Linked DNA regions of Homo sapiens. The protein of the gene in region 2 binds, or shares a complex with, the protein of the main gene of each other region. Each region holds a gene or a part of one and is shown on either strand. Other genes may lie near its edges.

Region 1 (8,013 bases), on a different chromosome or scaffold from region 2:
TGAATCAACGGTCAGTTAATAGGTTAATCTTACCTGTTCTAAAACTCTATTCTAATTTTTAAAAATTCAAATACCTAAAAAATTTAGTCCAGGCACAGTGGCTCACGTCTGTAATTCCAGCACTTTGGGAGGCCAAGGTGGGTGGATCACTTGAGGCCAAAGCTTGAGGCCAGCCTGGCCAATGTGGTGAAACCTCGTCTCTACTAAAAATACAAAAATTAGCTGGGCGTGGTGGTGTATGCCTATAATCCTACTTGGGAGGCTGAGGCACCAGAATGGCTTGAACCAGAAAGGTGGAGGTTGCAGTGAGCTGAGATCGTGCCACTGCACTCCAGCCTGAGCAACAGTAATACTCTCTTTCAAAAAAAAAAAAAATTCATTTATGATTCAAAATGGGTAAATTTTATGAAATATATAAATTATACACATAGTTGTTAAAATTGATTTATGAGAATATTTTCTTCTATCCATTTATGGCTTGTACTAGTAAAGGTTTTTTTTTTTTTGAGACAGAGTCTTTGCTCTGTTGCCAGGCTGGAGTGCAGTGGCACAATCTCGGCTCACTGCAAGCTCTGCCTCCCAGGTTCAAACAATTCTCCTGCCTCAGCCTCCCGAGTAGCTGGGACTACAGGCACGTGCCACCACGTCCAGCTAATTTTTGTATTTTTAGTAGAGATGGGGTTTCACCACATTTGCCAGGATGGTCTTGATCTCTTGACCTCGTGATCCACCTGCCTCAGCCTCCCAAAGTGCTGGGATTACAGGCGTGAGCCACCGCGCCCGGCCTAGTAAAGGTTTTTGATAAAGTATGACAGCATTCAAAATTGGGCTTATTATATCATATGGTTTAGGAAAAGCCTGGGGCAAAAAACACAATAATTACAAACACAGATGTAACCAAAGTTTATAAAGAACAAAAATAATGCCACAAATTATTTTAAATTTTGGTTGAAAAGACTGAATTTATCAAGAAATACTCCTATATTTGGCAATACATTTATACAGGACAATTTATTTATTTATTTATTTATTTATTTATTTATTTATTTATATTTTATTTATTTTTTTGAGACAGAGTCTCGCTCTGTCACCCAGGCTGGAGTGCAATGGTGCAATCTTGGCTTACTGCAACCTCTGCCTCCTGAGTTCAAGCGATTCTCTTGCCTCAGCCTCCCAAGCAGCTGGGACTACAGGCACGCGCCACCACAGCCAGCTCATTTTTGTATTTTTAGTAGAGATGGGGTTTCACCATATTGGCCAGGCTGGTCTCAAACTCCTGAGCTCATGATCCACCAGGCTCAGCCTCCCAAACTGCTGGGATTACAGGCATGAGCCACTGTGCCTGGCCTATACAGGACAATTTAAAAATTACAATAACTTAAACAATGTCACTGAAAAAGAAATCTGCTGCGAGACCACTTTTTATTAGCAGCTTTTTATCATGGGTAATTCAGCTAGGATCAATATTTGCAAAGATATAAAATAAATGGTAATCTATTATAATCTATTATAAAGATATAAAATAAATGGTAATATAAAAAGTGGTAATCAGACTTACAAGTAATACAGATAGCTATAAATTGGGACAATTGATAACTTCACATTAAATTCCCAGAATTAATATTTTTTATATGACAATGAGAAGAAACATTACTGTAAATGTCACAACTGTTACACAGACTTTTAATTATCCAACATGATTGAAAAATATATTTATGTTGAGAATTATATATAGTAACTATTTACTAATTTTTTTTAAATTACGATACAATGAAATTACTAACAAAACAGAAACAGACATTATTTAATCTATTAATGCAATTGGTATTTCATGAAATAATTACACCTTAGATATCATTATGAACATCAATAATCATATAAACTGTTGACATGGTAGGTCTAAGACAACTCCACTTGCATCAGTCAAAAGAATATACACATCCCAAATTGCACACATCCCAGACTGCTCTATATATGCCTTATTCATCTAATTTTCTTCATAACCGAGTTATTCTACGAGTAAAAACAAAAACTTAAATTTTTACAGCTTTGTGGTTTTTGGATTTCAGATTTTAAAAGAAATACATTTCTGTTTTCTCCAAGTTTGCATGAAATTTCGCTGATCTCCCAAAACTTACTCTAGTAAAAATAAAATTAGCATAGTAATTTTAAAGTCTGTGGGGAAACATTAAACATTAAATTATATTTTGAAAAATAAAGATATTTAACTTACTACTTTTTACAGGTAAGTTATTTTAAAATAAATTATGCGCACCATGTTTTCTGGGCACTTTTTACAAATAATAGCAGGTCCTCCATTATTAGAGATCATCTGAAATCCTGGTAGACATACACATGAAGTTCCTAAAAAAAAAAAAAAAAAAAAAAAAGCCAATTTTATCCTTGATAAATAAAAATAAAGTTCCCAGATAGTGAAACTTTTAATAAGTCTGAAGATCTTGAGAAGCAGTATAGTGATTAACAGCAGGATTCTGGAGGCAGTACTGCCTGGGTTCAAATCCAGAAATACACTTCTTGAGTTCCAATCGTAGTAATCCTACTCAGTTGCATGACCTTGAACAAGTTACTAAACTCTCTGCCTTGGCTTCCTCTACAATAAAATGGAGAAAAAAAATTGGTACCTACCTCACAGGGTTAGTATGAGTACAAAATTAGTTATTATACGTAGAGGTCTTACACTGGCACACAGCTGGTATTATGCTGCTACCATTTTAAGTGCAAGTATAACTAAACTATTAAACTACTTAACTGCTGCTGGAAATTTTACATTTCTACGTCACTAAACAATATACATGTATTCGGGCCAGGCGCGGTGGCTCACGCCTGTAATCCCAGCACTTTGGGAGGCGGAGGCGGGTGGATCACCTGAGGTCAGAAGTTCGAGACTAGCCTGATCAACATGGTGAAACTCCATTTACGGGGACTAGGGGCCGACCAAGGCGGGAGTGTTACTTTTGCCAGGGCCCACCGCAAACCGTCTTACCTCGGGCATCTTGCCTCTGGTTAGCTCCACAAGGAACACACGAGAGGGCGGAGATATCAAAGTACTGGTTGTTGTCGCACTTCTCCGGCTGCTGGAAAGGGAAAGAGAAGGTCTGGGCCTGTAAGAAGCGAGGGAGGAACAACAGAAGGAACGCGGTCACGGCCCGGGCGGATAAGAGGGACCAAACCGCCATTGCCACCCCAGCCCCACCGCGCGTCGCCATGGTACCGACGCTGGAAGCCTCACAGCCTCCAGCCCCCCATCAGCCTCTGCGGCGGCTTCGCTGAGCTGATTGGACAACCCAAGTCCGGGTACCGGAAGTCACTGCTCGTGTTGCTTGGTTGCTAGGTTACCAACCCTGCGCGAAGTTGGCAGGTCCAGTAAAGAATGGGTTAGAGACCGGTTAACCCTGGAGCCCAGCGATATTTTCAAACGTGTATAGAGTTCCTCTACTTACGATAGGGCTGCCCCCTCCCCGCAATAAACCCATCGTAAGTTGAAAATATCATAATTTGTCGAGTTATAGTTACATCAGAATTTATTCAGACTAGGTAATTTTCACGTTAAAGGAAACATGACTTGTAGTTTAACAATTTGATGTCAAAAAACCCCACTGACTTAAAACCCAGTGAAGGATTACTATAGCTCAAAGACTGAAAAAATAAAAAAACTTTCCTGCCAGGTTTGAGCATAGGAAATCATGTATGCGAGACAAAGTACGAAACGGAAGAAACCATGTTTGCTCATTCTGTTGCCAGCGAAATTTCACAAAGCCCCTGACTCAGTGACTGAACGCAGTCCTCCAGAAGAATGCCCTGAAGACAATAAGTAGGATAGAGCACAAGTTTTCACATCTGTTGCTTGAATCACTTCATTTTTTAAAAAGATACAGTCAGCGATCCTAGCTCTTGCCTCTTCCTGTACGTAAGATAACGTGTGACAGGATTAATGATTATGCCTCTGTAATCTATAACCAGATGTAGTCTCCAAACAAAACTTTGATGAGATTTTGCTCCAACGTAACTTCTGAGCACGTTTAATGTAACTTTTGAGCACATGCAGAACTCCATCCCTTGATGTAGAAACTGGGGGCAGAACAGCTGCTTTGGACCAGTATAACATAAACTCTTTGAAAGACTCTCCAGGGTTGCATTCCTCAGTAAGACTCCGAATAAAACTAACTTTGAGTCTTTAAAAGCCTGATTTTTTTCTTTAGTTGACATGTATATAAAATGAGATCACCTTTACACCTTTTGTGAATAAAGGAATCTAAGCCTGGTGCTGTGGCTCACACCTCTAATCCTAACATTTTGGGAGGCCACAGTGGAAGGATTGTCTGAGCCCAGGAATTCAAGACCAGCCTGGGCAACATAGTGAGACTCCACCTCTACAAATAAAATTTATTTTAATTAGCTGGGTGGGTGGCACATGCCTATGGTCCCGGTTGCTTGGAAGGCTGAGGCGGGAGAACCACTTAAGCCCAGGAGGTCAATGAGCCCAAAGGCTGCAATAAGCTATGATCGTGCCACTGCACTCCAGCCTGGATGTCAGAGACCCTATATAAAAAAAAAAAAAAATCCTGGACAAAAATATGGAAACGTTTAGAGTTAGAGACCACTTGCGAGGCTAAGGTAGAAATCTAGAGTCTAAATTGGAGCCATGGAGGAAGGGAGAGGCAGAAGAGGATGAATAAAGGAGCTATTCAGGAAGAAGAATTATAAGAATTTTATTATTTGGACATAGGAAGTAAACAAACAGAATCAAGGATAACTTCCAGGTTTCTGATTTGGGTGGCTGGGTAGACGGTTGTGATATTAAAGGAAGATACCTGTGGTAGATAGCTTCTAAGCGAAAACTTATTGGATAAAGAAAATTTTAAGGTAGAAATGAAAGTTATAGGAATATTTAACATGGTGGGAGCTAGAGGTATGGATAATAATAGAAATAATAGGTATTAATAGCTTGTTTTTGTTATCAAGCAAATGAGCTCTCTATCCAATGCATGCACAGAAGCCAATACTATGTGGCACAAGCTTTTGAGGAAAAAAAGTCTTTATTTGCACAACTGGTCAGCAAGGAGATAGGAGTGCATTCAAATCTGTTTCCCTGATTTAGAGTCTGGGGTAAACTTATGGGCTTGGAAAGCCAAGGGAAGAATTTAGGAATGTGTCTTGGCAGGCAGAATGGAGGACTTGAAATTTGACCATTTAGAAAAAGGTACGTAGAGGCCGATTTTAGGCCTGATCCTCCAGGCAAATGGACCCAACACTTTTGAAAGAGTTCCAAGTTCAGGTTCCAGTCATGTCCCGGTCTTGGTTCCAAGGAAAGGATTCACTGGTTTTGGGTGTTGTTAGAGGTCCAGGCTTTTTCTATTGCACATGACTGGGCTACATGACTTTCAGTTTTTGGCTCTGTTACATCTAAAAGGTAACACGACATTTTGTTATCAACAGAGTAGGCTCAGTTTGGGCTAGTCCCATGGAGACACTTTTAATGTGTCCGGCATTGCAATATCTCATTTGATCCTAAATTGGGACTGTTATCATCACCTTTAATTTACAGATGAAATAACCAAGGCTTAGAAAGTATAAGTGACTTTCTAAGGTCACACTTAATTCATGGTTCTAACCCTGGTAATTTGACACCAGAGCCCATACTTTTCTTCGGGTTTTTGTTGTTGTTGTTGTTGTTTTAAACTTTAATTTAGGTTCAGAGGTACATGTGCAGGTTTGTTATATAGGTAAATTGAGTGTCTCGGGGGTTTGGGGATCAGATTATTTCCTTACCCATGTGATAAGCATAGAACCCAATAGGTAGTTTTTTGATCCATACTCTCCTTTCACCCTCCACCCTCAAGTAGTACCCAGTATCTATTGTTCCCTTCTTTGTGTCCACCTGTACACAATGTTAGCTCCAACTAATAAGTGAGAACACACAGTATTTTATTTCTTTCCTGTGTTAGTTTGAGATAGGAGGTTGGCAGGACTGATTTCACAGGATAAGATCATAAAGACCTGGCTGATAAAACAGGATAGGTAAAGAAGAGGACTGAAACCTGCTAAAACCAAGATGGTGACCAAAGTGACCTCTGGCCATCCTCACTGCTCATTATATGCTAATTACAATGGATTAACATGCTAAAAGACACTCCCACCAGCACCTTGACAGTTTGCCCCTTGCCATGCCCACTTAGAGAAGTTACCCTACATGGTCTAACAAGGGAGGACGCTCCGTTCCAGGAATTCCCCACCTTTTTCCTGGAAAACTCATGAATAATCCACCCCTTGTTTAGTATATGATCAAGGAATAACCATAAATATACTCAGTCTAGCAGTCCTTGCCATTGCTCTGCCTATGAAGTAGCCACTCTTTATTCCTTTACTTTCTTAACAAACTTGCTTTCACTTTATTCTGTCAGATTGCTCTTGAATTCCTTCCTGCATGAAGCTGAGAACCCACATGGCCACTCAGGCTGAACCCTGATTTTGAGGTTTTCTCTGTGACAAGTTTGCTTTGGATAATGCAGAGCCCACACTCTTAAGCCCTGCTTTTTATTGTTGCCTTTGAATCTCTGGATGTGCTTTTCTGGGCAGGAATAAAGAAAAGCTAAAGGCAAGTAAGTTCAAGATGAGATTAATGAATTAAAATATTACAAAGAAGGTGAAAAACAGAAGTGGAGGTTGTGGTGAGAAAGGGGAATTAGTGAGGTTCAGATCTTACATCTGGGGCACTTTGTGTGGTGAACCCTGTGTTCATTCCCAATCTCCAGACACTTAGTGCCCTTTTGATTTGTTAATCTTTTGTGTGTAACTTGTTTTTTACTTTCTTGAAGTCTTCAGGATGTTCCTCTCTGTGCCCCACCTTCTCATTTTTCTTAATTTTACAGTGATGTGTCTGGGCATGTTTCATTGTCATCTTTTGTGTGGAACACCTGTTGTAACTTTGCAATTCAGCAAAGAAACTCATGTCCTTTAACACTGGGAAATGATCTCTTCTACTAATTATTCCTTTGAAGACTTTCTCTCCGTTTTTTTTTTCTTCTGGACACCCTATTTTTCAGATACTAGACTTCCTGGACTGTTCCTCTAATTTTCTCAGATTATGTTTTCATTTTTCTTTTCTTTTTTCTTTTTTTTTTTTTTTGAGACGGAGTCTCGCTCTGTCGCCCAGGCTGGAGTACAGTGGCGGGAGGCGGGATCTCCGCTCACTGCAAGCTCCGCCTCCCGGGTTCACGCCATTATCCTGCTTCAGCCTCCGGAGTAGCTGGGACTACAGGAGCCCGCCACCTCGCCCGGCTAATTTTTTGTGTTTTTAGTAGAGACGGGGTTTCACCGTATTAGCCAGGATGGTGTCAATCTTCTGACTTCGTGATCTGCCCGCCTCGGCCTCCCAAAGTGCTAGGATTACAGGCGTGAGCCACCGCGCCCGGCGTGTGTGTGTGTGTGTGTGTGTGTGTGTGTGTGTCGGAGTTTTTTTGCTCTTGTTGCCCAGGCTGGAGTGCAATGGCACGATCTCTGCTCACTGCAACCTCCACCTCCTGGGTTCAAGTGATTCTCCTGCCTCAGCCTCCCGAGTAGCTGGGATTACAGGCATGTGCCACCACGCAGGGCTAATTTTGTTATTTTTAGTGGAGTCGGAGTTTCTCCATGTTGGTCAGGCTGGTCTCAAACTCCCGACCTCTGGTGATCCACCCATCTCGGCCTACCAAAGTGCAAGGATTACAAGCGTGAGCCACCGCGCCCAGGCTTCATTTTTCATTTTGTTTTGTTTGGTTCTACTTTCTGGAAGATTTTCCTGCGCGTATCTGTCAAACATTGAATTGAACTTTTCATTTCTTCTATTATAAATTTAATTTCTAAGAGCTCTCTTTTGTTTTCTGGCTATAGCTTAATTATGGCATTCTTGAATTCTTCCATGCTGCAATATCTTATTTCCTAGAATACATTACTAGTGGTGTTTTAAAGTTTCCCTCTGTTGCATAATCTGTTTCTTCAAAGTTATGTTTTGTA
Region 2 (7,282 bases):
TCTCAAAAAAACATAGAGGCTGGGCACAGTGGCTCACGCCTACAATGCCAGTACTTTGGGAGGCCATGGCAGGAGGATCACTTGAAGCCAGGATTTCAAGACCAGCCTGGGCCACAAAGTGAGATTTTGTCTCTAAAAAAAAAAAAAAATAGACAGATAGCTGGACAGACAGATAATAGTATAGAGATAGTCATAATAAAAATGGGACCATATTCTACATACTGTTTTAAGGCTTTTCTCACTTAATATATAATGCCTAATATGCACTTACAATATTATAAGTGGCTTCATCATCGTATACCAGCCTATTAATACCCCAATTTGTTTAACCAATATAGATATGGATATGGTACAGCCCAAGCACCGTGGCTCATGCCTGTAATCCCAGCATTTTGGGAGGCTGGGGAGGATCACTTGAGGCCAGGAGTTCAAGACCAGCCTGGGCAACACAGACCCCGATCTCTACAGAAAACAAAGAAAAAATTAGCCCGGCATGCTGGCAGATGCTTATAGTTCTAACTACTTGGGAGGCTGAGGTAGGAGGACTGCTTGAGCCCAGGAGCAAGGTTACAGCGAGCTATGATCGTTGGTTTAGGTTTAGGTTTCTAATTTTCCCCAATTATATGTAATGCTATAATGACAACCTTATACATACATCTTTATGACTGTCTCCAGTTGTTTCCTTAGGATATGTTTCCTGAACTGGAACTGCTAAACCAAAAGGCAGGTAACATTATTTAAAGCTTCTGAGACACACTCCCAGATTGCCCTCTAGAAGGGCACAATATACATTCTCACCAACACTGTAGTAAGAGTGCCTATTTCCCTGTACCCTTGCCAAGACTGGATATTATCATTCCGTTTTTACTGGGCCTTAAAGGATAAGTAGAAATCAGACAGACAGTAGGAATGGGAAGCAAATCCAAGTGCAAGAACGGCAATGGCCAAGGCTGGGTAACGACTCATGGTCTTTGGGAAACTCTGAGTACCAAGGTTGGGCTGGAGTGGATTTGAGATGGCTGGTAGCAGGTGATAGGCTCTGAAAGAAGGTGGGAATGAATCTGAATCCAGGCTAAGAAGCCTATAGATAATGAGAACTTCTGAAGGTCTTTTAGTGAGTGCTTGACAGGATGAGGTGTGAGCTCATAAAGCAGGAGCAGGGATGGACGACCACGAGGGCTAGAGTGATGGAAGGCTCCACAGAATGGGATTCCTTACTCCCCTCCAGTCAGCCACCTCCCCAATCCTGTGCAGTATTTCAGTATCATCATCAGATCTAGATACTTCTCCCTAGCCCCACTGTCACAGCTTTTGGGGAGGATGGGGAGGGAAACCGTTAATCCGCATCTGCAATAGCTTTTTACTTGGTTCTCTGCCACCAGGCTTGGCCTTGTGATCCACTGCATATGATGCTGCAGAATTACATAAGATGGGAATCTGATCCTCTTACAACCCAGGCCCTGTGGACTTCAGGACAGAGTCCAAACCCCTTAGCATATACACAAGGCCCCTGGGGACCTGACCCCTGATCTCTTTCCTACACTCCTCTCACCCCACCCCTCTTCTGGCCACACTGAGTTACCTGCAGTTAAGCAGGCCATCCCACATCCCCCCATCTCTGTCCACGCAGTTCCCTCTGCCTGGAATGCCCTTCCCCTCAGTCCATGCTGACCATCTTCCACGTGTCCTTCAGGACCCAGCTCAGCTCCTGTTTTCTGGGGAGCATTCCTTAGTGGGGCTGAGTTAGATGCCATTCCTCTGCCTTCTCATCGTGCTTGATGTAGAAACTGCCATCCACTCCTCTGTCTCCCTTACTCGACGGTAAGCTCTTTGAAGGCAGGAGAGTGCCTAACTCATCTTTATGTCCCTGGTGCTGGCATTCAGGAGGTACTCAAGAAAGGTTGGGAGAAAGGAAAGACTGCTGAGACAGGAAAAGGAAAGGAAGAGGCAAGGGTCAGGGGAGCCTCCAGGTTTTTGGCCTGGTGTCGGCCTAAAAGACTAATGGTAGAGGAAGTCAACAAGGGACACTAGGAAATCAGTTAGAGGTGGAAGGGAGAAATTCATTCATCCATTCAACTCATTATTATTATTATTATTTTTTTTTATGGAGTTTCGCTCTTGTTGCCCGGGCTAGAGTGCAATGGTGCGATCTTGGCTCCTGCAACCTCTGCCTCCCAGGTTCAAGCGATTCTCCCACCTCAGCCCCCTGAGTAGCTGGGATTACAGGCACCCACCACCACGCCCAGCTGATTTTTGTATTTTTAGTAGACACGGGGTTTCACTATCTTGGCCAGGCTGGTCTCAAACTCCTGACCTCAAGTGATCTACATGCCTCAGCCTCCCAAAGTGCTGGGATTACAGGCGTGAGACACCATGCCCAGCCAATTCAACTCATTCTTAACGAGGGCCCACTATGTGGCAGGAGCTCTACTAGGTACTAATGGTTAAGGAGAAAAGAGATCTTCCAGGTTAGGCGCAGTGGCTCACGCCTGTAATCCCAGCACTTTGGGAGGCCGAGGTGGGCGGATCACGAGGTCAGAAGTTCAAGACCAGCCTGGCTAACACGGTGAAACCCTGTCTCTACTAAAAATACAAAAAATTAGCTGGGCATGGTGGCACACGCCTGTAGTCCCAGCTCGTTGGGAGGCTGAGGCAGGAAAATTGCTTGAAGCCAGCAGGCAGAGGTTGCAGTGAGCCGAGATGGAGGCACTGCACTCCAGCCTGGGCAACAGAGCAAGACTCTGTCTCAAAAAAAAAAAAAATAGCCCCAAGTTGGAGCAAAAATGTCACTTTCAGGCTCCTGTATTTACTAAAGGGAGGAAAACAGAATGACTTTCAACAAATACTGAAACATGCTACAGGCCAGGTAGCCAGAAAATTAATCTGACTACATTGCCCTGTTCTCTGAGCATTTTTACAATACTAGAAATAGGCTCAAAATCCCATTGGTCAATAAAATAGTTTCTCACAGGAAAAACCCATTGTACTTCTTAAAAGGGTTCACCTATCAAGTATCAATTGCTAAAACTTGCTATAAGGCTAAATTTAAATTAGCTATCTCTGAATACTAAGTTGGTCCCATCCTGAATTAATGAGCCTCTTCTAAGTGCTCCTAGTTTTTCAAAAAGCCTTGAAGCTGGGCGCGTTGGCTTACACCTGAAATCCCGGCACTTTGGGAGGCCAAGGAGGGCGGATCACCTGAGGTCAGGAGTTCGAGAGCAGCCTGACCAATATGGTGAAACCCCACCTCTACTAAAAATACGCCAGGCATCGTGGCGTGCACCTGTAGTCCCAGCTACTCAGGAGGCTGAGACAGGAGAATTGCTTGAAGCCAGGAGGCGGTGGTTGCAGTGAGCCACTATCACACCACTGCACTCCAGCCTGGGCAACAGAGCGAGACTCCATCTCATAAAAAAAAAAAAAAAAAAGAAGCCTTGAAACCTCAATTATAAGAGATCATTCAGAACAGATTATTTATTTACCTTATAATCAGCTGGAAATGTCATTTTTCATTGTTCTATACAATGCGAACTGTGAGAATTCCTGGTAGATTTACATATCAGAAAAGTACAGATTTCTTATCTAATTTTTTGTTACAAATACTATGTCCACAACAAAAGCTGTGAAATTAAAATGCACTTTTCACCCTAGGCTATACTAATTCACTGATACAAAAAATGTGACCACTGTCTACAACTCAAATTGAAATGTAATTCAATCTTCAAACACAGAGGTTTCATTACATTATTTTAATGTATATTCTCTCTTCTCTTTTGCCTGCACAGTCACCTGGCTGAATGCAAATAAGGGATAGCTACTTTTTTTTTTTTTGAGACTGAGTCTCGCTCTGTCACCCAGGCTAGAGTGCAGTAGCGCAATCTCCACTCACTGCAAGCTCTGCCTCCCGGGTTCACGCCATTCTCCTGCCTCAGCCTCCCGAGTAGCTGGGACCACAGGTGCCCGCCAACATGCCCGGCTAATTTTTTTGGATTTTTAGTAGAGACGGGGTTTCACCGTGTTAGCCAGAATGGTCCCAATCTCCTGACCTCGTGATCCACCCACCTCAGCCTCCCAAAGTGCTGGGATTACAGGCGTGAGCCACTGCGCCCTGCCAGGGATAGCTACTTTTTTACATATTTGTTTGGACGGTATGGCTTCAGAACGACGTAAAACACTGGAAATCAGGTTTGGGTTTTTAAGCCTGGGAAAGTTTTCCCTTTCTCCAAATTGTATTATCCTGGTCAAATTTTTTCAAAATTGCATGTGTCATACGTAAACTTACGTGACAACTGGAACTGAGCAGGCAGAAAAGACACTGAAATCCACGGAGCTGCAGTCGGGATCACAGCAGCAGTTGATGTCACACTGTGCTGGGGATAAGTCACAGACACAGAGAACAGCAACTGCAGAAAAAAGAGGGGTAGGATCCAGAACATCACCATCAGCAGGTGGTGACTGCCCCCTGCCACCACAGTGTACCATAAGTCAATTTCATAAAAAAGATCCATTTTATTTTTCCTATTGCACTTTGGGGGAAATTTGTGAAGTGGAAATGAGTCAGTTTGAGCATCCCACAATCAGAGGTTTCCCCAAAGTGGCTAATGATCTGACTCGCTTGGAAAGTTCTGTTAGTGCTTTGCCTACAGAGATGCTGATTTCGTAAGCTGAATATGAAACCCAGGCATTTGCAGTTTTCAGAAACTTTCCAGGTGATGCTTATAATTAGACAAGTTTAAGAACAAGCACCCCTAAACCATTTGCCTGACCATAAGAACCACCAGTTTAAAACTCCAAAGTCCTTAAGCCCCTCCTCTAGAGATTACGATTCAGAGGAAGGGCCCACTTAAACCTTCAGGAAAGAGACTTTTCAATCTTGCCCCCTCTTCACGTATAACCTGCTGCTTTAAAGCTGAACTCATATTCACAGACCCTTGGCCAAGAATCATACCGGCTCAGGTGCTCAGAATGTCTTTGGTGATTTAGACAATAAGGTATGAGGGCGGGGTAGGAATCTCCCCCACCTCACAACTTTTAATTATTTTATTTATTTATTTATTTTTTAAAGGAGTTTCGGCTCTTGTTGCCCAGGCTGGAGTGCAATGGTGCAATCTTGGCTCACTGCAACCTCCACCTCCTGGGTTCAAGCTATTCTCCTGCCTCAGCCTCCTGAGTAGCTGGGATTAAAGGCATGCACTACCACGCCCAACTTTTTTTTTTTTTTTGTATTTTTATTAGGGACGGGGTTTCACCATGTTGGCCAGGCTGGTCTCAAACTCCTGACCTCAAGTGATCTGCCAGCCTTAGCCACCCAAAGTGCTGGGATTACAGGTGTGAGCCACCACTCCTGGTCAACTTTTAATCATTAATAAGGATGATTTTTCTTTGCCGCTTTGCAACAAAGATGATTATCTGGATTTTTAATTCTCTATCTTATTCTGTCAAATAAGGACAAGAAAACCCTTTTAAAAAATAGAGAATGAATTTATAGTTGCAATTATTGCTGGAAGGGAAGAAGTAAGATCAACCTTCAATCTTATCTGTAACGTTTTCTTTTTCAAAAGAAGATTTCAAACCAGGCACGGTGGCTCACATCTGTAATTCCTGCACTTTGGGAGGCGGGCAGATCACTTGAGGTCAGGAGTTTGAGACTGCCCTGGCCAACATGGTTAAACCCTGTCTCTATTAAAAATACAAAAATTAGGCTGGGCGCGGTGGTTCATGCCTGTAATCCCAGCACTTTGGGAGGCCAAGGCAGGCGGATCACAAGGTCAGGAGATTGAGACCATCCTGGCTAACACGGTGAAACCCCGTCTCTACTAACAATATAAAAACTAGCTGGGTGTGGTGGCGGGCACCTGTAGTCCCAGCTACTGGGGAGGCTGAGGCGGGAGAATGGCGTGAACCCAGGAGGCGGGGTTTGCAGTGAGCCGAGATCGCGTCACTGCATTCCAGCCTGGGCGACAGAGCGAGACTCCATCTCAAAAAAAAAATTCAAAAATTAGCCAGGTATGGTGGTGGGCGCCTGTAATCCCAGCTACTCAGGGAGGCTGAGGCAGGAGAATCGTTTCAACCCAGAAGGCAGAGGTTGCAGTAAACTGAGATCACACCACTGCACTCCAGCCTGGATGACAGAGTGAGACTCCATCTCAAAAAAAAAAAAAAAAAGATCTCAAGCCAAAAAACAAAATTAACAAAAAAGGAATCTGAAGCAAATGCTGCTAGTGTCCACCCAACATTCTTATTTGTACGTATGAATTATTTCACGATAAAAAGGAGCTTTAGAAAAATGTACCCCACAGCGGCCGGATGCAGTGGCTCAAGCCTGTAATCCCAGCACTTTGGGAGGCTGAGGCAGGTGGATCACGAGGTCAGGAGGTCCAGACCAGCCTGGCCGACATGGTAAAACCCCGTCTCTACTGAAAATACAAAAATTAGTCGGGCATGGTGGCACACACCCGTAGTCCCAGCTACTCAGGAGGCTGAGGCAGAAGAATAGCCTGAACCCAGGAGGCAGAGTTTGCAGTGAGCCGATATCGTGCCACTGCACTCCAGCCTGGGTGACAGGGCAAGATTCCATCTCAAAAAAAAAAAAAGAAAGAAAAAGAGAAAAGAAAAATGTATCCCATAGCTCACGCCTGTATCCTAGCACTCTGGAAGGCTGAGAAGAGTGGATCCCCTGAGGTTAGGAGTTTGAGACCAGCCTGGCCAACGTGGTAAAACCCCATCTCTACTAAAAATACCAAAAAAATTAGCCAGGCATGGTGGCGCGCGGCTGTAATCCCAGCTACTTGGGAGGCTGAGGCAGGAGAATCGCTTGAACCTGGGAGGTGGAGGTTGCAGTGAGCTGAGACTGCGCCACTGCATTCCAGCCTGGGCAATTAAAAAAAAAAAAATAGTACCCCGTAAAAGGTATAATGCACTCTGCAAAAAAAATGTGTGAGGTGAAGGGGAAGGTTTTGTTAATATGCCATGATTTCTTAGTCTAAGACACAAAAGCTTTCCCCCTAAAGTTTACAGTGCTTCTCTCTAGTTGAGAACTCTTCTATGTGCCTAGTAAAATGACACAACTTATGCACGCTAATGTAAAAAATTAAAAGTGCTTTAGGTTCCCTGTATGTTTAAAATTACTATCTTGCTTTGTTTTCAAAACTTAAAGCCCTTATAGGCAGCTGTAAGACTACTAAGGACGAAGCAATAGTGTTTAATAACTCCACTTAGGAAAAAGGTTTCTACCCAGGATGCGAGTGTACTTAATCATCCACCAAGTAGCTGTTGAGCCCCT
Region 3 (7,282 bases), on a different chromosome or scaffold from region 2:
GTGACCTGAAATGTCACATTCAATGGCTCTTTTAGCAATTTCTCGAATATCTATTAGAGTGTAGATCATGAGGAAAATATGTATGAGGAAAATAGCATTTGAGATTTGAGCAATTAATTCACTTCTTATAGGTCCTTAAGTACTTTTTTCCCATGTCAATTAACTCATTTAATCTGAAGTTACATTCAGAGATTACTAATCAAATTCTGGAAGCATAAATTATGAGAGTACTCATATGCTCTAAAATAGTGTCACTATGTCCAGATGAAAAACTAAATAATCCTCCCAATAATTCCACATTGTCAAATATTAATTATTAGGTTTTTCTTTATATAACTAATCTATGTGTAACTGAAACTTTGTTATCATGTCTTCTTTTCCTAGCCCGACACTATTAGAAGCAATCTTCCCCATATTAAAGAAACTACAAGTGATGATGTAAGTGCTGCTAACACTAACAACCTGAAGAAGAGCACGAGAGTCACTAAAAACAAATTGAGGAACACACAGTTAGCAACTGAAAATCCTAATGGTGATGCTAGTGTAGAGGAAGACAAACAAGGAAAGCCAAATAAAAAGGTGATAAAGACGGTGCCCCAGTTGACTACACAAGACCTGAAACCGGAAACTCCTGAGAATAAGGTTGATTCTACACACCAGAAAACACATACAAAGCCACAGCCAGGCGTTGATCATCAGAAAAGTGAGAAGGCAAATGAGGGAAGAGAAGAGACTGATTTAGAAGAGGATGAAGAATTGATGCAAGCATATCAGTGCCATGTAACTGAAGAAATGGCAAAGGAGATTAAGAGGAAAATAAGAAAGAAACTGAAAGAACAGTTGACTTACTTTCCCTCAGATACTTTATTCCATGATGACAAACTAAGCAGTGAAAAAAGGAAAAAGAAAAAGGAAGTTCCAGTCTTCTCTAAAGCTGAAACAAGGTATTTTTGCATTGATAAATGTAAAATATCCTCTTAGAAAAACACTGTTATTTTCAGGTTTTGAATATTATCTGTGGTTTAACAAAGAAAATTCTTACGCTTTTATTTGGAGACATTGTCACTAAGATAAGAACAGCTAACTTTTACATAACACCTTACTATGTACTAGGTGCTTTACGAGAATTAACTCATTTATTTCTTATGACAATCTTATAAGGAAAAGTAATATTCTTCCTATCTTGCTGATGAGGAAATGGAAGTACAGAACTAGTAAGAGGCTGAGCCAGATCCTTGTCCCTACCCTGAACTACTCACTTACATCTGCTTTCAAAGTAATAGAAACCTAATTACTTCCCCTTTTTTGAGTTACAAATACCTGTTTGGATATATAAATATAACTTTTTTTCTTATACAGATAACATTAGCTCATTGTAGAAAAACTATTCAAAGATAATCACTATTGGCAATTTGGTATTCTAATCTTTTTCTCTATATGATGCTTATATATGTATGTACTTCTATATAGAGTGTGAGGTTAAGTGAACATACACATATTTATATGTTTTCTATTTGGAGAAAACAATAAGGTAAAAATGCTTTTTAACTGCTATAATTAACTTTGTTCCCCCCTGCAGTTCTCCTCTAGAGAAACAACTTGAGGTGGGAACATTTTATATGTGACTATTCTTTGGCATTCAGCATCAATTTCCCCTAAAGCCCTCAGCCAAAAATAATTCCCCTCTTTTCAAAAGCTAGGTGACCGGTGGTAATAAAGATACGGCAAACCAAGTTGCTGCAGGGACATGATAGTATATATTAGTTATCTGTTGCTCCATTAAAAAGATGATCCCAGAATTTAGCAGCTTAAGACAACAAGCATTTACTGTCTCAGAGTTTCTGTGGGCCAGCAATCTGAGAGTGACTTCACTGGGTGTCTCTGTCAATCACAGGTTGCAATCAGGATGTTAGCTGGGACTGAAGTCACCTCAAGCCTTGACTGGGGGAGGATCTGTCAAGTGACATAGCTGTTAGAAGGCCTTAGAAGATCCAGTTCTAAGCTCATTCATGTGGTTGTTGGTAGGCCTCAGGTCCTGACTGGCTTTGGGCCCGGTATACCAGTTCCTTGCCACATGGACTGTCTCCATATGGTCTACACACAACATGGCCACTTGCTTCCCCAGACCAAGGGCTCTGAGAGAGTGAGAGCAAGACAGAAGTCACAGTCTTTTTGGAACCTAATCTTATAAGTGGCATTCATTACTTTTATCATATTCTGTCTGTCAGAAGTAAGTCACTAGTCCAGCCCACACACAAAAGAAAGGGGATTACACAAAGACATGAATATGAAGAGGTGGGGATCAGTAAGGTCCATCTTAGAGGCTTCCTACCATAGTATACTATAAATCTTCCTTCTCATAGCTACCACCTCTGTGGTAGACTGGTAAGCCATAGTCAATATGAAATAGGGTTAGCTCATGAATTTTTAATAACACGTGACAGTGGCACGCAAAGGGTAGCTGTTCTCCTTAAAGAACAGGGTTTGGTGATGTGATCAAATAGAATGGCTTTCTGGAATGACTAATTTGAAATATTTCTCTAGTCTTACTTTCCTCAACCCATTTTTTTTTTGAAATATGACTAAAAATATTGGAAATTAATTTTTTATTATTTACATGCAGATTTTTTACTAGATACATTAAAATGTTAGTAGGCTGGTTTTTCTTTAAACTCAGTATGCTTCTGGGTTGCTACTTCTTACCATTTACTAGTTCATGTGATATAGATTTTAATTTTAGTAATAGCCTTCTGAAAATGTAGTGACTCACCAAGGAATTAATTTTTACCTAGAAATCCATGCCTGAGCAACATAGTGAAAGTCCATCTCTACAAAAATTACAAAAATTAGCCAGGTATGGTGCCTGTAGTCTCAGCTATTTGGGAGGCAGAAGTGGGAGGATTGCTGGAGCCTGGGAGGTTGAGGCAGCAGTGAGCTATGATTGTACCACTGCACTCCAACTTGGGCGACAGCGCGAAACCCAGTCTTAAAAAAAAAAGAAAAGAAAAAAGAGAAATCAAAAGTTGTGCATGTGAAGCCTCTTGAAGACGGAACAAACCTAGAATACTTTTTATACCTTTAAATAAGGTAATTTAAAAATTGGTTGATAAATCATTTACTTGGCAGCAGGGTGGGCATGCTTTGATAAGTCCTATGTAAAGAGAGATCAATTGCTCATAAAATATTAATACAATTTCCCTTTCCCCTGGGGTTTAGAGCTCAGTTTTAGTTGAATCGTGTAACTCCTCACGAAGTATAAAATACCACCTATGATACCTATTTGACACTTAACCATTTTAGTGTATAAGAAAATACATGCATCTCTCAAGAGACAATAATAGTGATTTTAGGATTATCTTTGCTCCTATTTACTGTTCACTCTGTTGCATCATGAATAATAATTATAATGATAATATATCTGTAATGGCTGATACTTGGATTATATTTGTAGTACATTGACCATCTCTGGTGACACAGTTGAAGGTGAACAAAAGAAAGAATCTTCAGTTAGATCAGTTTCTTCAGATTCTCATCAAGATGATGAAATAAGCTCAATGGAACAAAGCACAGAAGACAGCATGCAAGATGATACAAAACCTAAACCAAAAAAAACAAAAAAGAAGACTAAAGCAGGTTTGCTATACAAATTAAATGAAAAATTGTGTATGTTGGTAGAAATAACTTGATTCTAGGAATTTTAGCCCTTTAAAACTGATGGGTATACTTGAAAATAATTCAATATAGGATATTTGGTACTTGTTCTTGAATTCATCTAGATTAAAGCACACATGTATTTGTAGCTGTAGGTCTCTGATGAGTTTGTATCACTTGAGTCTTCTCTGATTTTTTTTATTTTTGAGATGGTGTCTTACTCTGTCTCCCAGGCTGGAATGCAGTGGCACGATCTCGGCTCATTGCAACCTCCACCTCCCGGGTTAAAGCGATTCTCCTGCCTCGGCCTCCTGAGTAGCTGGGATTGCAGATGCATGCCACCATACCCGGCTAATTTTTGTATTGTTAGTAGAGACGGGGTTTCACCATGTTGGCCAAGCTGGTCTCGAACTCATGACCTCAAGTGATCCACCTGCCTCAGCCTCCCAAAATGCTGGGGTTACAGGCATGAGCCACCATGCCTGACCTTCTCTGATTCTTGTCATACTTTAAATTCAACTCTAAAATGATACTGACTTTGTAGTTGCTATTGGGTCATAGAGGATTTCTTCTTTAAACCATTGAGTTTACATCCTCTAAATGGTTAGGACTCAGTTGTTGAAAGCTATAAATGGTCAGCAGCCAATAAACATTTCTGATGTTAAGGCTGCATCCTGTCCAACATGGTATCCTCCCAATTCGTCAGCCTAATACCACTTCTTTCCTTTCTCAACTTTTCTCTTTGCCTTGTTGATTTCTGTCTTCTTCTTTTCTTGTTTGTTTTCTCTTATTTTTCTTTACATGTTCTTTTCTACTCATACATCCTTTTTTAGTCTTTCAGTTTCCATTTGATTGGCCAAAAATTGGGATTAAAATGGGCAATTTTAGATTTTATAGTACTTATTCATTAGAAGATGTAAGTGATGATGTTTTGTGGTTTCTATAATTAAAATTTTAAAATCTTTTGTTGAAGCATAATGTGTATATAGATATATATAGAAAAGCACTAAGCAGTATACTTGTTTTATGTGTTTCTATATATATAAAGCACTAAGCAGTATACTCATATACATATTTTTAAAGTTTTTTTCACAAACTGAACATACCTATAAAATCATTACCTAAATTTGGAAACAGAACATCATTAGCACCCAGAAAAATCACCTTCCCGTTAGTTGCCCTGTGGGAGTAACCACTACCTGGACATCTAACAGAGTTTATTTTTGCTTATTTTTATACTTTAATATGAATAGAATGATAAATACTGTGCTCCTTGTGCCTGACTTTTTTTACTCAATGTTAATTTTGTAAGATTTATACTACTGTTGCTTGCATACAGTTGAGCTTATTCATTCTTAATTCTGTTTTTGTATTATTTAGATATCCATTGTGTGAATATACCACAGTTAATTTGCCTATTTTATTGATGGTCATTTGAGTTGTTTCTAGTTTTAGGCAATTATAAGTAAAGCGGTAATTCACATTGCAGTCACGTATTTGGTAAGCACATGCATACCTTTATCTTGGGCATATTGTTAGGAGTAGAATTGCTGTCATAGATTATGTATATTTTTTGCTTTAATAATTACTTCCAGTTTTCCAAAGTTGGTTTACCAGTTGACACTAGCAGTGTTTGAGAGTTCCAGTCACTCCACATCTTTACCAACATGTAATACTGTTTTTTAACGTTTTAGTCATTCTTAGGAGTGACTAAATTTTCCTCATTCTTCAGGAATGTATAGTGATATTCATTTTGGTTTTAATTTTATTTCCATGGTAACTATTGAAGTTGAGTGTTTTCATGTTTATTAACTACTTAGATTTTGACATTTGTAAATATATTCAAGTTGTCTGCATTTTTTAAAACACAGAATTGTCTTTTTCTAATTGATTTGTAGTGATAGGTTTATATACCTCAATATGAGATTATTCTCAGATATAAATACCTACCCACATTTATATCGCAAATGTCGTCCTACTCTGGTTTGATTATTTCTCTCTCATTGGTGTCTTTTGAAAAACAGAAATTTTTGTATTGTCCAGTTTATCCATTTTTTTCCTTTGATGGTAAGTGCTGTGATTTAAGAAATCTTTCCTAAGTTCTGAAGATATTTTTCTAAAAGTTTTATTCTAAAAGTTTTACTGTTTCTGTTTTACTTTCACATTTAGATATGCAGTTCATCAGGAATTGGTTTATGTTTATGATAGGAAGCAGTGATCAAGATATCCATGTGAATATATATTATGATTGACCCAGTACCATTTACTGAAGAGAGTGTCTTTTTCCCTCTGTGTTGCAGTGTCACTTTTCCCATAAATAACATGACTGTGTTACATGTGGATCAGTTTTTGTAGTCTCTATTCTTTTAAATTAGACAGTTTGTACCAACACTACCATGTCTAAATACTGTAGCTTTTTAATAGGTCTTGCTATTTAGTATTATACTCTAGGTTTTTCCTTCTTCATCTGCATTGTCTAGGCTATTCTTTACTTTGCATTTCTGTATGGATTTTAGAAGAGCTTCTCCATTCTCCCTCTTCCTTTTTACCCTCATTCTGTCTTGCAAGCTGTGATTTTGATCTAGACTGGGTGAATCTAAAGAGTCACAGCATAACAACTCTCTAAAGAGACTTGACATTTTTACACAGTATTGATTCTCAGGCTATGAATTTGGTATGCACTTCCATTTATTTGCATCTTATTTAATATATCCCAGCAATATACATTTCAGCAGAATCTCTCCTTAGATTTATTCCTGGGATTTGATGTTTCTTAATGATATTATAAATGGCATTTAAAAAATTTTTGTTTTGTATTTGTTGCTGGTACATATATGTAGAAATGTATTTAAAATTTTTTAACATTGTGTCCATTGATTTGCTAAATTCACTTATTGCAAGAGTTTATTTATTTATTTATTTTTGAGACAGGGTCTTGCCCTGTCACTCAGGCTGGAGTGCAGTGGCGTGATCTCAGCTCACTGCAACTTATACTTCCCAGGTTCAAGCGATCTTCCCACCTCAGTCTTCCAAGTAGCTGGGACTACAGGCATGCACCACCATTCTTGGCTAATTTTTGTAGAGACAAGGTCTCACTACATTTTCCAGGCTAGTCTCAAACTCCTGGGCTCAAGCAGTTCTCCCACCTCAGTCTCCCAGAGTGCTGGGATTACAGATGTGAGCTATCGCGGCCCACAGAGTTTATTCTTACATTGTTTGGATTTTTCTACATATGCAATCATGTAATACGTTAATAACGATAGTTTTATCGCTTCTTTTTCAGTCCTTATGCCTTATCATTTTGCTTGCCTTGATACAAATCAAGATTTAATCTCTTTATTATCAATCTTTTTTTTTTTTTTTTTTACTTCTGTCAGCTATTTGATATACTGTAGTTTTTGAGGGATGTGTCTATTTCATCCAAATTTTGCATTTCTATAGCATCTGAAAGGCTGTCCCATGTTTTCATTCATGGTATTGGCAGTTTGTTTTCTCTCAATTTCTTGATCAGCCTTAGGATTTTAAATTTATGAGTCTTTTCAAAAACCAACCTTTAGCTTTGATTTTCTCTGTTGTACATTTATGTACTATTTTAGTGATTTTTTTTCTTGTAACTGTATTTTCCTTCTTT
Region 4 (8,160 bases), on a different chromosome or scaffold from region 2:
TAAGGAAACAGAGATGTGTACATCATTATAATACATCAAACTTTTGCTTCTGTAACTGTTTAATCAAATCAGTTCTACAGAACTGATGCTATCTGACATGTTTTCATAACCAACACTAAACTAATGAATGGCAGGGGAACCAAGAACATTAGAGCTAAAAGGAACCAGACTGATAGTCTAATCCAAGTCTGCTATTACAGATGGCATATAGCCCAGAGATGAAAAGTTCCTCACCCAGAATCACAAAACTGAGTAGTGGCAATCCCTATGTTACAATGCCCTTTAAACACAACAGGGGAAAGTATAAACTGTTACAACCTGTCTGGAAATCACTTTGGCAATATGTATCACCAGCCATGTGGAGGTAGACCAGATGGAATAGACAGAGAAGACAAGAGACACTGGCTCACCTGGCTAAAGAGCTTCTCCTGCCACCCAATCACAATCTCCTCCTCTTCGTCTTCCTCTGGGCGGTGTCCACCTCCAAAGACAACAGAGTGAATCAAATGCTTGAGCCAAACCAGCACCACTTCTTGTTCTGTGGTTTATTATAACCAAAGTCCCTATTCTTATATTTGCCACAAAAACTAGCTGGAATTCAGCAATTTAGTAAGCACTCAACCTAGAGAAATGCTAGAGAGGCTGTATATGAGAGTTAGTATGAGTAGAAGCCAAGATTAGAACCCAGGAAGTCTTAGTCATGACTCTAATTTGAATAAAAGAAAATACCCCCCAGGAATTTTTTTCTGGGGGGGATGGAGTCTCACTCTGTCACCCAAGCTGGAGTGCAGTGGCACTGTTTCAGCTCACTGCAACCTCCTCTTCCTGGGTTCAAGCGATTCTCCTGCCTCAGCCTCCCAAGTAGCTGGGATTACAGGCACACACCACCAACCCAGCTAATTTTTGTATTATCAGTAGAGATGGAGTTTTGCCATGTTAGCCAGGCTGATCTTGAATTCCCGACCTCAGGTGATCCACCTGCCTTGGTCTCCCAAAGTGCTGGGATTACAGGCGTGGGCCACGGCGCTCAGCCCGCTCCAGGAAATATCTAATCTAACTGGATATAAGAAACTGAAATTTAGATATAAGCTGAATAGCCAGCCCTTCCTCAGTCCCAACTGTCTGCATTTGCTAGAAAATAACCCTGGCATTTTTATCTTTACTATTTCTAAAGCCATATATGTAGAATCACAAACACTGAAATTTAGGAGACCAAGTGTAAGGAGAGGACAGTGAAGGCAAATAAATGATTTTTTAACAGAACCAAATCTGGCTGAATGCAGTGACTCACGCCTGTAATCCCAACATTTTGGGAGGCTAAGGTGGGAGGATCACTTGGGCCCAGGAATTTGAAACCAGCCTGGACAACATAGCAAGACCTTTTCTCTACTAAAACTTTAAAAAAAAATAAACTGAGTGTGAGTCTGTAGTCCCAGCTAGTTGGGAGGCTGAGGCAGGAGGATGGCTTGAGCCTGGGAGACCAAGGTTTACAGTGAGCTATGATCATACCACTGCACTCCAGCCTGAGCAGAAGAATGAGATTCTGTCTCAAAACAAAACGAAAACAAAAACAAAGAAAACAAATCTAATCTAATACACTCTTGGGTATGCCTTTTTCAGAGACACGTTTCACAACCTGTGAGCCCACACTCTTGCCCAGGAACAGCTCTGAACAGAAAGAGAAACAATAAAAGCAAACAGACTAGTGACCTGACAACAACCACTCTGTCCTCTCCTCCTCATTCTTTTGGTTTCCCAGATAAGGAAAACCACAAGAACACAGTTGATCTATACATGCACATCATATGCAGATTTTGCAAGCAGTCTCCAGTTTAAAAATTGTTTTTAAAAGTGTTTATATGTGTATTTAGGGTTTGGGGCACGTTTTCTCTTTTAAAAATGCCACAAATAGGACGGGCGCGGTGGCTCACGCCTGTAATCCCAGCACTTTGGGAGGCCAAGGCGGGCGGATCACGAGGTCAGGAGATCGAGACAATCCTGGCTAACACGGTGAAACCCCGCCTCTACTGAAAATACAAAAAATTAGCCGGGCGTGGTGGCGGGCGCCTGTAGTCCCAGCTACTCGGGAGGCTGAGGCAGGAGAATCGCGTGAACCCGGGAGGCGGAGCTTGCAGTGAGCGGAGATAGCGACACTGCACTTCAGCCTGGGGGAAAGAGCAAGACTCCGTCTCAAAAAAAAAAAAAAAAAAAAAAAAAAAAAAAAAGCCACAAATAGAATGTAGGTTGCCGGGCAACTCTATAACATATCAGAAGTATAGTATTTGTTATCTCACTACATTTGGCCACAATTCTGATTAGTATCATAATTAGTATTAGATGGCACATCACCACCGTAACACCCACTGGCAGTTGGCTGAGGCCTAAAAGTGGCCAAGTCTATGAGGTCCTTCCCGAGCTCGGCAGCAGGCTGATAATGAAGAAAGTTGCTTGATGTGATTCTTTGCAGGTGGACTCTGTCAAGAAAAGCCCAAAATATTCGTTACCAGACACGCAACCAGGAGATGAACACAAAGCAAGGATGGGGGAAACAAAACAGAGGAGGTAGGGTTGCCAAGGTGTGCTGGGTGCAGACAACGGAGAGGAGGTGGGTGGGTGCGCCGTCCTATGGGGAAGAATGAAGGGGAGAGGGTGTACTGGGGGCACAGGGCTTTGAGAAACTGGGAGCAACAAAGACGTGAATGGACTTGGGTAGGTCTGTAAGGGGTTCTTAGAGGCTGTGAGTGGATGGGGGTACGGATAGTGAAAGAAGTGGGGAGCCCGGAGAAGTGGTCGGGATTGTAAGCAGAAAGTGGGGACCTCAGAACACCGAGCTCAGGTTGGAATGATCTAAGGACACAAAAGCATGGGGCCTCGGGGCTGGGGCGGTGCGACTACCGGAGGCGCAAGTTGCGCACGGGGTCCCGGGAGCGATACACTGCCTCCCCGGTGTCAGTGCTCCAGACGGTCTCCGCCATGACAGCTGCGACGCGCCGCGACTGCGCCGGAAAGCGCGCCGCTCTGTTTTCCTGGCAACGGAGACGCTGGATCGGGAGGCGACGGAGGTGCTGCGCGCGCAACCCGCCGTTCCCGTCACGGCGCCACGGTCGCAGTTGGCCACACAGTGCAAGTGCAGCCCAAGCCGAACGCCCAAGAGGGCTCCGGGGTCCTACCGATCACCGCTTACCATGTATGCGATAAAAGCTCACCGAAAGCGGGACCTCGTGCGCTGTGCAAATGAGGAAACTGGCACAGCCATCAGCCCACTTCATATAGACAGATAGATGCAGAAATGATGACGGGGACCAGGTGGCCTGAGTCTTCGCCCTCTACCTTTTCCACCATGCCACACTGCCTTCCACCCAACGCGTGAAAACTTTGGCCTGAAAATCGGGTGATGTGACTGTAAGAAATGCACCCATTATTCCCAAAGGAGTCAGGGAAGGTGATGGCCCTTAGCCAGACAAGAAAATATATTCTTGGAAGACAAAAAAAGTGTCAGAAGATTTATTAGTCTTTGTGTTGATATTCACTGAGCAAAGAAAGAAAAAACAAGGAAGTCAACAGTAAGGAAGGAAACGATGTTATTATTGAACTGATTCTTACCTTGTGTATGTTAGTTTTGGATCATTAAGCCACTTTGTTACTGCACTGGCTTCCTGAAAAGCCAAAAAAGTGACATTCACAAGTCATGCTTCGTTGTACTAGCAAAGGAAGGACATGCTGTAACCTCACGTCTGGCGTCCCGGCACTTTGGGAATGTCAACATTTATCAGCCTTGTTCACATCTAGTCCTCCTCCAACAAAGTAAGCAATTGTCCCCTGAACTCGGGAATCTCATGCCAGTTTGATGATTTGGCATTGGAAGCTCTGGGTGCCATAGCCACTAGTTGTGTAACACCGACTCACCATAAATAGCACCATTTATTTAGGATCTAGTGCAGCTTGAGCACTTTTGTTTGCATTGTCCCAAATCCTTGTAGAAGCCTCTCAAAAAGGTACTTTTATTCACTTTAAAAATGAAGTTCGTGAAGGCCAGGGTTTAAAGGACTTGCTAGCTTGCAAGTGGTAAAAGTACTGGGATTCTAGCCCAAGTTCTTCTGTCTTTTGAAGCCTAACCACCTTCCAGTTTGCCTCACAGCCTCTCACCTACCAATTTATTCCATAAACGCACACATTTCCAACCTGGGAAATAATAATTTTTTTTTTTTTTTTTTTGAGACGGAGTCTCGCTCTGTCGCCCAGGCTGGAGTGCAGTGGCGGGATCTCGGCTCACTGCAAGCTCCGCCTCCCGGGTTCACGCCATTCTCCTGCCTCAGCCTCCCAAGTAGCCGGGACTACAGGCGCCCGCCACTACGCCCGGCTAATTTTTTGTATTTTTAGTAGAGACGGGGTTTCACCGTTTTAGCCGGGATGGTCTCGATCTCCTGACCTCGTGATCCGCCCGCCTCGGCCTCCCAAAGTGCTGGGATTACAGGCGTGAGCCACCGCGCCCGGCCGGAAATAATTTTAACATAAAACAAAAGGCACCTTTCTAGCTCCTAAGAAATTGTCTCTCCAATGTTTCCTTTTAAAATTGTGAGTAGGCAATCTGTGCCACATGCACAACAGCTGATAAAGTGGAGCCTGATTCTAGTTTAATTTTATAACCAAATCTAACTTATAACAAAGTTAATCTGACATAATTATATGCAAAATAGTTTCTATACCACGTTATGGAAATATAAGCTATTTGTGTAAGCAACCATAATTAGTATTATTTTTATATAGGTAAACTAAGTTTTCATGTTTTGTTTACTGATTTCTATGAATCAGGATCCTTTTATGTTTAAATATTCAGCTTATTGGTCTTAAGTACATTTACCTTGTTTTTCAACCATCATCACCATCCATCGCCACTACTTTCTTATTTTTGAAAATTGAAACTCTGTTCCCATTAAATAGTAACTCCTCATTCCCCTCTTCCAGCCCCTGGCAACTACCATTCTACATTTTCTCTCTATGAAATTTGACTGTTTTAGATACCTAATCCATATTGTAGCATGTGTCAGAATGTCCTTTTTTTTTTTTTTACTTTAAATTCCGGAATACATGTACAGAACATGCAGGTTTGTTACATAAGTATACATGTGCCATGGTGGTTTGCTGCACCTATCAACCCATCACCTAGATTTTAAGCCCTGAATGCATTAGTTATTTGTCCTAATGCTCTCCCTCCCCCTGCCCCAGACTTTGCGACAGGCCCCAGTGTGTGGTGTTCCCCTCCCTGCGTCCATGTGTTCTCATTGTTCAACTCCCACTTATGAATGACAACATGCAGTGTTTGGTTTTCTGTTCCTGTGTTAGTTTGCTGAGGATGATGGCTTCCAGCTTCATCCATGTCCCTCCAAAGGACATGATCTCATTCCTTTTTATGGCTGCATAGTATTACATGGTGTATATGTACCACATTTTCTTTATCCAGTCTATCACTGATGGGCATTTGGGTTGGTACCATGTCTTTGACATTGTAACTAGTGCTCCAGTAAACATACGTGTGCATGTGTCTTTATAGTAGACTGGCTTATATTTCTTTGGGTATATACCCAGTAATGAGATTGCTGGGTCAAATGATATTTCTGGTTCTAGATCCTTGAGGAATCCGCACACTGTCTTCCACAATGGTTGAACTAATTTATATTCCCACCAACAGTGTAAAAGTGTTCCTATTTCTCCACAGCCTCGCCAGCATCTATTGCTTCCTGACGTTTTAGTAATTGCCATTCTGACTGGTGTGAGATGGTATCTCATCGTGGTCTTGATTTGCATGAACCAGGATTCTTAAAACTGAGATCCATGAGTGGGATTCAAGAAGTCTATGAATCCTTTCCCTAGAATTCTGAATGGGGGATTTTTCTAGAAAGAGTTCATAGCTTTTATCAGATTCTCAAAGGAGTTTGTACCATGATATCAAGAATGGCTTGGGCCAGACACAGTGGAGTTTAGACCCAGGAGTTTAGACCCACCGGGGCAACATATTTTTTATTTATAAAAAATTTAAAAATTAGCCAGGTTTGGTGGTGCATGCCTGTGGCCCCAGCTACTTGGGAGGCTGAGGTGGGAGGATCATGTGGGCCGAGGAGGTCGACGCTGCAGTGAACATAATTTAAAAGGAAGAAGTAAAATTGTGTATATCTACATACAATATGAACCTAAACAATCCTAAAGAATCTACAAAAATGCCAGCAGAACTAATAGGGTTATAGAATACAAGGTCAATATACAAAAATCAATGGTATTTCTATATACTAGGAACAAACCATTTGAACTTGAATTTTAAAAATCACAGCCATTTAAAATAACATCCAAAAGCACAAAACATAAAATTAACAAAATATGTGCAAGCCTTGTACACTTAAAATGTCAAAACATTGGTAAGATGAAGACCTGGATAAAGTAGAGTACTATAACATGTCCATGGATTGGAAAAATCTATATCATTAAGGTAATTATCCTCAAGATGATCTAAATCTCAGTAAAAATCCCACCAGGTTTCTTTGTAGAATTGACAAGCTGACTCTTAACATCTATATGGAAATGCAAAGGAGTTACATGGTTAAAAGAATTTTGAAAAAGATCACGCCTGTAATCCCAGCACTTTGGGAGGCTGAGGCGGGCAGATCAAGAGATTAGGAGATTGAAACCATCCTTGCCAACATGGTGAAACCCTGTCTCTACTAAAAATACAAAAATTAACTGGGCGTGGCGGCATGCACCTGTAGTCCCAGCTACTCCAGAGGCTGAGGCAGGAGACTCGCTTGAACCCAGGAGGTGGAGGTTGCAGTGAGCTGAGATCACACCACTGCACACCAGCCTGGCGACGCAGCAAGACTCTGTCTCAAAGCAAAAAACAAAAAAAAGAGTCCAAAATAGATCTGTACGTAGATGGCCTATCAATTTTTGACAAAGGTCCCAAGGTAATTCAATGGAGAAAGGACAGCATTTTCAACAAATAATGCTGGAATAATAAATCCATAAGCAAAACAAATACAAAGATGAACAAAATTCAACTCCTTACCCTACACAATTTAATGAATTGAAGCAAAATGGATCATAGACCTAAAAAGTAATAGTTACAACAATAAAACTTCTAGACAGAAACATAGGGACAGATCATTGAGATCCTGAGTTGGGTAAATATTTTCTTAGGACTCAAAATGTACAAACTATAGAAGAAAAAATCAATTGTCATCAAAATGCACAACATCTTTTCTTCGAATGACACTGTCAAGAAAATAAAAAGACAAGACACACTGAAAAATATTTGCAAAACACCTATCTGATAAAGGACTTATATCTGGAATATATAGTCTTACACCTCAGTAATAATAATACAAACAATCTTATTTTTTAAATGGTCAAAAGATTTGAACAACTTACCAGAGAATATATGTGAATGACATTAACCCAGGAAAAGATACTTGATATCATTAATCATCAGAACATTACATATTAAAAACACAAAGATACCACAGCACACCTATTACAATGGCTAAGATTTAAAAGTTAGACCATATTAAATGCTAGTGAGGATGTGGAGCAACTGGAACTCTCATAATTACTTATCAGAATGCAAAATAGTACAGCCACTTTGGGAAACTGGAAATTTCTTATAAAGTGAAACATTTACATACCATATGATCCAGCAATCTCACTCCTAAGTATTTACTCAAGAAAAATGACAATATGTGTCCACAAAAAGGCCTGTATGTAAATGTGTATAACAACTTATGATAGTAAAAATGGGAAACAGTCCAAATGTCCATCAATGTGTAAATGTTTAAATAAATTGTGTAATTTGTATAATATTTATACAATGAAATACTACTCCATAATAAAAACAAAGTGACTACTGATACATAAAACCACATGGATGAATCTCAAAATCATTATGCTCAGTGAAAGAAACCAGACATAAAAGACTATATACTGTACAATATATTCGATATGGCATTCTTTAAAAAGGAAAAATTATAGAGATGGAAAATAGATCAGTGGTTGCCAAGGATTGGGTGTGGGGATAGGGATTGAGTATAAAGGGCAGTGTGAGGGAATTTTAGGGGTGATGAGACCGTTCTAAATCTGTGGTGATGCTAAACAACTTGTTGCATTTGTTAAAAACCT

Evidence for each region.
Region 1: TCTN1 (region 2) and TMEM67 share a complex: the UniProt entries of both Homo sapiens proteins name them as parts of the tectonic-like complex.
Region 3: TCTN1 (region 2) and AHI1 share a complex: the UniProt entries of both Homo sapiens proteins name them as parts of the tectonic-like complex.
Region 4: TCTN1 (region 2) and MKS1 share a complex: the UniProt entries of both Homo sapiens proteins name them as parts of the tectonic-like complex.

Annotation. Positions count from the first base shown.
Region 1 is NC_000008.11:93,750,129-93,758,141, reverse strand, and holds the start of TMEM67 (meckelin isoform 1 precursor), read right to left. Parts: upstream 3,249-8,013; 5' UTR 3,228-3,248; coding exon 3,005-3,227; intron 2,365-3,004; coding exon 2,276-2,364; intron 1-2,275. UniProt on the Homo sapiens protein: Required for ciliary structure and function. Part of the tectonic-like complex which is required for tissue-specific ciliogenesis and may regulate ciliary membrane composition.
Region 2 is NC_000012.12:110,616,957-110,624,238, reverse strand, and holds part of TCTN1 (tectonic-1 isoform 1 precursor), read right to left. Parts: intron 4,404-7,282; coding exon 4,283-4,403; intron 1-4,282. UniProt on the Homo sapiens protein: Component of the tectonic-like complex, a complex localized at the transition zone of primary cilia and acting as a barrier that prevents diffusion of transmembrane proteins between the cilia and plasma membranes.
Region 3 is NC_000006.12:135,459,476-135,466,757, reverse strand, and holds part of AHI1 (jouberin), read left to right. Parts: intron 1-384; coding exon 385-944; intron 945-3,451; coding exon 3,452-3,633; intron 3,634-7,282. UniProt on the Homo sapiens protein: Involved in vesicle trafficking and required for ciliogenesis, formation of primary non-motile cilium, and recruitment of RAB8A to the basal body of primary cilium.
Region 4 is NC_000017.11:58,216,256-58,224,415, forward strand, and holds the start of MKS1 (tectonic-like complex member MKS1), read right to left. Parts: upstream 3,001-8,160; 5' UTR 2,976-3,000; coding exon 2,896-2,975; intron 2,475-2,895; coding exon 2,365-2,474; intron 491-2,364; coding exon of another isoform or gene 482-490; coding exon 411-481; intron 1-410. UniProt on the Homo sapiens protein: Component of the tectonic-like complex, a complex localized at the transition zone of primary cilia and acting as a barrier that prevents diffusion of transmembrane proteins between the cilia and plasma membranes.